2 separate regions of the Homo sapiens genome follow, and region 1 is linked to region 2. The links come from fine-mapping of genetic effects on gene expression. A gene starts in region 2. The other region holds a variant in brackets. All regions are shown on one strand. Distances are from middle to middle. Region 1 overlaps COL23A1 (collagen type XXIII alpha 1 chain). Region 2 holds the start of HNRNPAB (heterogeneous nuclear ribonucleoprotein A/B).

What was found. PIP is the estimated chance that this variant, and not a neighbour inherited with it, causes the effect.
Region 1: its variant is fine-mapped to the expression of HNRNPAB in whole blood (TOPMed, PIP above 0.99).

Annotation. Positions count from the first base shown.
Region 1 is chr5:178,252,975-178,255,873 of GRCh38, reverse strand. COL23A1 (collagen type XXIII alpha 1 chain) reads left to right here. Exons shown (of 29, transcript NM_173465.4): 16 at 848-925. Among named protein-coding and RNA genes, the nearest start is that of PHYKPL, 22 kb to the right of the region's middle. The variant G/A (reference allele first, on the strand shown) is at 1,224.
Region 2 is chr5:178,202,813-178,205,711 of GRCh38, reverse strand. HNRNPAB (heterogeneous nuclear ribonucleoprotein A/B) reads right to left here and starts at 1,179. Exons shown (of 8, transcript NM_031266.3): 1 at 972-1,179; 2 at 666-897. The coding sequence starts at 874. RefSeq lists silencers at 206-615, 646-755, 776-995, 1,296-1,365.

The DNA of each region.
Region 1 (2,899 bases), 50 kb before region 2:
CTGGCCTCGGCTCTGTCTCCTCATGCTCCCAGAGGCTGGCTTCTTCCTCCAAAAAAAATGGATCTGAGCCCCCGCCTGGCTGTGCAGGTGGTGGGGAGCGGGAGGGGGTTGGATTAGGCAGCCAGTGAGCCAGGCAGTTCTGGGCAGGCTGTGACTGGGGACGGGGGAGGGCTGGCAAATGAGGCCCAAGCAAGGGTCTCCAGCCTGCACAAGGGATAGGCTCGGGTCTGGACCAAAGTGCTCCCCAGCCTTCACTGTACCCCAAGCAAAGAGCAGCCTGGGTGGGGAAGTGAGGTTCACAAGGGAAGGGCTGGCCAGCAGCCATGCGTGCACGTGTGAGTGTGCACAATGAGTGTGCAGCATATGGACATGGGCATGCTGACATGCACCTGTAACCAGGCGGGAATAGGCGTGTGGGTGCTTGGCGTGTGCAGCCGCTCCCAGAGGCTGGGAAATGGAGGCACGGGGGCCAGATCCAGCCTGCTCATGTCTTTGTGTTTTGGAGGGTTTGGGGCTTTTCTGTTTGTTGCCAACATTGAAAAATCTGAAGAGCGTCACATCAAAATCAGGCTTTCCATTTGCCCCCGAGAACTCAGGGGTCAGGCCTGAATGCCCACGTGAGGGCAATTACAGCCGCCCCTCAGACCAGGTGGAAACAGGTCTCTCAGCTGGCCACAGGGCCTGCCTCCCGTTCCCTCCATCCACCCTGGGGAGGGGCATGCGTGCAGCCTGGGTGACGAGGCTCTTCCATTGCTTTCTCTCTGGATGTGATGCAGGGACAGCTGCCACTTCACCTCCAACTCAGTGTAGCTCTTCCCTGAAATTCTTACTCTTCTTCCTGCCTCAGGGTGCCCCAGGCCTCAAGGGCGAGCAGGGAGACACAGTGGTGATCGACTATGATGGCAGGATCTTGGATGCCCTCAAGGTAGTGTTCCTGGTGGGACCAGGATGTGCCTTAGATACGATTTTTCCTTAGGGAATAATCACTCCCTTTGTGATTAATCCTGCACTTTTTTACACAAGGGACCAGAGGCAGCTTAGCACAAAGACCCCGGCTGTTACTAGGCACCCAATGTGGAAATCAGGGCTATGTTGAGACCCGCCTCAGAGAGCCCCTGTGAATGTGGCCCACGTGGCCCCGAGCTCCCTAGAGGCCAAGTCAAAAAGGGAAGCTCCCCACTCAGGGGCAGGAGGCAGAGTATTTCCTGGGGTCTGTTCCCACC[G/A]GTGTCTCCTGGGACCTTCCCAGAGGACACTGGCTGGAGGGCTAGGTCTCCTAATGATGCCATGGGGAGGATGAGAGTGGCAAGCTCTGCCCCCAGAGCCTTGGGAGATATGTGACCTCCGAGCCCAGTCGCTGGTAAACTTGGGACTTACCACCAGTGGAGAGAGGCACTGGGTGCCAGCAGCTCATGGGTACCCCAGAAGGAAAGTGGGTGAGGAAGGAGTGGTCACCAGAGACCAGACTGGGAAGGGGGCCCTGGCCCCACCTGAACATCATTTCCAGTTATCTCCCACAGGCTTTGGGGAAGTACAAGTTGGCAGTAACTGTGGCACCCACCCCCAGGCATGCATGGTGTGGCGTGGCGTGGCGTGGTGTGGCGTGGCATGGCCCAGACGGCAGGCACATGCATGATGTGTCCCAGGCTGACCTAGCCTTGTGGGAGAAGCCCTGTGAGTGCAGGGAGTTGGGAGATGGACTTCGTTTTGTTTTTGTTTTTGAGATGGAGATTCACTCTTGTCGCCCAGGCTGGGTGTGATCTCGGCTCACTGCAACCTCCTCCTCCCAGGTTCAAGCAATTCTCCTGCCTCAGCCTCCCAAGTAGCTGGGACTACAGGCATGCGCCACCACACCTGGCTAATTTTTATATTTTTAGTAGAGACGGGGTTTCACCATGTTGGCCGGGCTGGTCTCAAACTCCTGACCTCAAGTGATCCTGCCACCTCAGCCTCCCAAAGTGCTGGGATTATAGGCGTGAGCCACCACGCCCAGCCAGAGATGGACTTTGGATGCCAGACTGAGATGCCGACTCAGTTTGATGGGCAGCGGGCAGCCATAGTCCATGCAGGGCATGATGTTAAAAAAATAAAAACACGGCCGGGCGCGGCGGCTCCCGCCTGTGATCCCAGCACTTTGGGAGCCCGAGGCAGGTGGATCACGAGGTGAGGAGTTCGAGACCAGCATGGCCAACATAGTGAAACCGCGTCTCTCCTAAAAATACAAAAATTAGCCGGGCATGGTGGTGCGCGCCTGTAGTCTCAGCTACTCGGGAGGCTGAGGCAGGAGAATCACTTGAACCCGGGAGGCAGAGGTTGTGGTGAACTGAGATCGCACCTCTGCACTCCAGGCTGGGCAACAGAGGGAGACTCCATCTCAAAAATAAAAAAAAAATAAAAAATAAAAACATATTGGGGGAAGGCTAGCTAGGGAATGATATGGACAGTGAATGAAAGCAGGTGTTGGAGCAGGGAGCAGGGGGACCCCAGGCAGGGAGGTCCTGGGCCTGGGCCTGGGGGAGGGTAGATAAGATGGAGGCCAGGGACATCTCAATGGGACACCAACAAGAAGGGCACAGGATAGGGAGGTGGGAGGGGAGAGACCTAGAGCTTCCGGGGCAGGGGTGGGGCAGGGGCTGGGCAGGGTGCAGTTTTTCAGAAGGGAGGGGAGGAGTGTGGAGGCTGAGCAGGGGGCCAGCTGGGCCCTGGTGGCAGGTAGCCTGCAGAAAGCCTGGATCAGGACAGGAGCTTGAGAGTGGGGTCGGACCTGGAAACACTGGAGACCCCACCCCTACCTGCGAGACTAAGGAACTCCCTAGGCCCAGCAGATGGCAGGCAGCAGAGCCAGAAGGTCAGAGAGCTCACAGGACAGTCAGAGACGGTGGTGCTGGGCCACCATTGGGGA
Region 2 (2,899 bases):
AGATGTTAAATCTCCACTACCCTCCAAATTGAACTCAACCAGGACCCTAACGAGGCTTAACAAGGCTCTGCAGCCCCAGCCTGTGAGAAGCAAAGAAGGGACCACCTCACCAGGGGTATGGGACCTAACCACTCATAACTGGAAATTCATGTGTTCTACAACCATGTAGCAAAGGGCCAGCGTCTCCACCAACTCCTGAGAACTCGTTTCAAGGAACTCGATGTTTCCGGGGACCAAGCCCGCCCAGGGTTCAGACCGTGACTCCGCCCCCGGGAGAGGCGGAGGAGGGAGGTCCGGGCCCCGGCTCGCGCCAACTCCGCCCACGCAGCCGCCGGCGCGGCCCAAGACGCCGCCGGGCCCCGGGTCCGAGCGCTTTCCCTCTTCCGGGCCATCCGCCCGCCCCTGCGCCGGCTCCGGCCCTGGCCCTGGCCCTGGCAGCGCGCGAGCGGCCCCGGGGCGGCGCCAAAGTCGACCCAACAAACTCCCGCAAACTCCAGCGCGAGTGGCAGCGCCAGGCCCGGCCCGCGAACGCAGCGGCGACAGTCCGCGGGCCGCACCAGCCCCGACCCGGGCCAGGCCGCCGCCCCTCCCCCCGCCGCGTGGCGCCAACAAAAGGCGGCCCCGGAACAAAGGCGGCGCCCCCGTCCGCCCGCGGCCGCACCTACCCCGCGTCCTCCTCGTTCTTGCTGGCGTTGATCTGGTCGCCCTCGGCGCCGTTCTGATTCCCGCTCGGGGGCGCCGCGGTCGCGCCTCCAGCCCCCGCCGCGGCGCCCGTGCCAGCCCCGGCCGGCGACTCGCCTTCGGGGACGGCCTCATGTCCGTTCTCGGTGGCGCCCGTCGTCTCCATGGGCTGCTCCTCGCCCGCTTCCGACATGCTAGGCCGAGGCGCGGCGGCTCCTGCAACCAGCGGCGACAGCGCGTCAGGCCGGCGCGGCTCCCGCCAGAGCTCCCGCCCGCCGGCCGCCGCTCACCTCGCCGCCGATGACGCCGCGGGGCCCGCTCGTCCCCACCCGCAGGGGAAGGCGCCGCAGGCTCGGCCGCACTCAAGCTCGCGCTGCTGAGGCCTCGCCCCAGTCAGCCCACGGAGCTGCTCCAACTGTGTCTCCTCCTCCTTGGCCGCCGCCGCACGGGAACCCACCGACCAACAGCCAAGCTCCGTCCCGCGCGGTGCCGCCGCCTGACAATGCCGACTCGTGGCGCCCTTTATAATGCCGGAGCCGGGTGCCACATCGCAACAAACTGCACACTCATTGGCTGCTCAAGTCCGTCACTCAACCTAGCTTCAGCGTCCCATTGGCCGCCACGGCGCGCGCGCTCTAGACCTGGGCGGGCTTTGTCCTCATTTTAGAACGCGCGCGAGTCCGGCCGCTACGGAGGGCTCCCGAAGCCGGGCGGGACGGCGCCGGGTCCAGGGCGGCGGGCAGCTACAGCACATCGGTGGGAGGGCCTAATCGGATTGTAAGCTCGTCGAGGCCGCTGGTCTCTTGCTCTCGAGGACTCCATCCCAGCATTGGCAGCCTCCGCCTCCCCATGTCCCAAAAGAGGAAACTGGGCTGGAGAAAGTTTCGCAGCCCAAGGACGCGTGGCTGGAAGTGGCAGAACCCGGGCTTCCGAGGTTGGGCGAGTGGGGTCCTCCAAGGCCCTCAGCACGGGTCGGAGGGATTGGGACTGAACCCGCCATCCCCCTGGACCTTGGTGCCCTCCAAGCCCCGCGCTCGCGCCCTGTCCGTCGCCTCCCCCAGAGATGCTCTGCAGGGACGATGAGACCTTGGTGTTCCCCGGTTCTCTGTCCCCTGGCACCACCTGAACGATTGACATCGCATTTGTACTTTTGTTTACTTAAATTTTTTCCTGTAAATCATTTGTCTTTCTTTTTCTTCCTTTTTATTATTTTTTTTTTTTTGATGGAGTCTTGCTCTTGTCGCCCAGACTGGAGTGCAATGGCGCGATCTCGGCTCACCGCAACCTCCGCCTCCCGGGTTCAAGCGATTCTCCTGTCTCAGCCTCCCGAGTAGCTGGGATTACAGGCATGCGCCACCACGCCCGGCTAATTTTTTTGTTTTTTTAGTAGAGACGGGGTTTCACCATGTTGGCCAGGATGGTCTCGATCTCCTGACCTCGTGATCCGCCCGCCTGGGCCTCCCAAAGTACTGGGATTACAGGCGTGAGCCACCGCGCCCGGCCTTTTTTTTTTTTTTTTTTTTTTTAAACAAATACGGAGGCCGGGCGCGGTGGCTCCCGCCTGTACTCCCAGCACTTTGGGAGGTCCAGGCGGGCGGATCACGAGGTCAGGAGATCGAGACCATCCTGGCGAACATGGTGAAACCCCGTCTCTACTAAAAATACAAAAAAATTAGCCGGGCGTGGTGGTGGGCGCCTGTAGTCCCAGTTACCGGGAGGCTGAGGCAGGAGAATGGCGTGAACCCGGGAGGCGGAGCTTGCAGTGAGCCGAGATCTCGCCACTGCACTCCAGCCTGGGCGACAGAGCGAGACATCGTCTCAAAAACAAAACAAAACAAATACACCACTCGTGAACTCACGAGGTAAAGGACAGGGTGGGGGCGTTGTTCTCTTCCTAATACACAAAACTCCTTTATATTATCTCCTTGACCACAAAATTTTAAAGGCCTCGGTAATCCCGTTATTCCTTTTAATCATATGGGTGGTGGGCCCCAAGGCAAGCAGGATTACAACCTCTGGAGCCTGCAGGTTACCAAATAGCAACCCAGAACACAAGGAACTAGCGTTTCCAGTGGATTCCTGCAGCCAGGACCAGTGTGGTGGGCTGGGCATTCCATTTTCTCTTCTGTATCTTAACAACCAAAGTAAGGTGGTATGGTCACCAATTTTATTTATTTTATTTTTTGACACAAGGTTTTGTTCTGTAACCCAGGCTGGA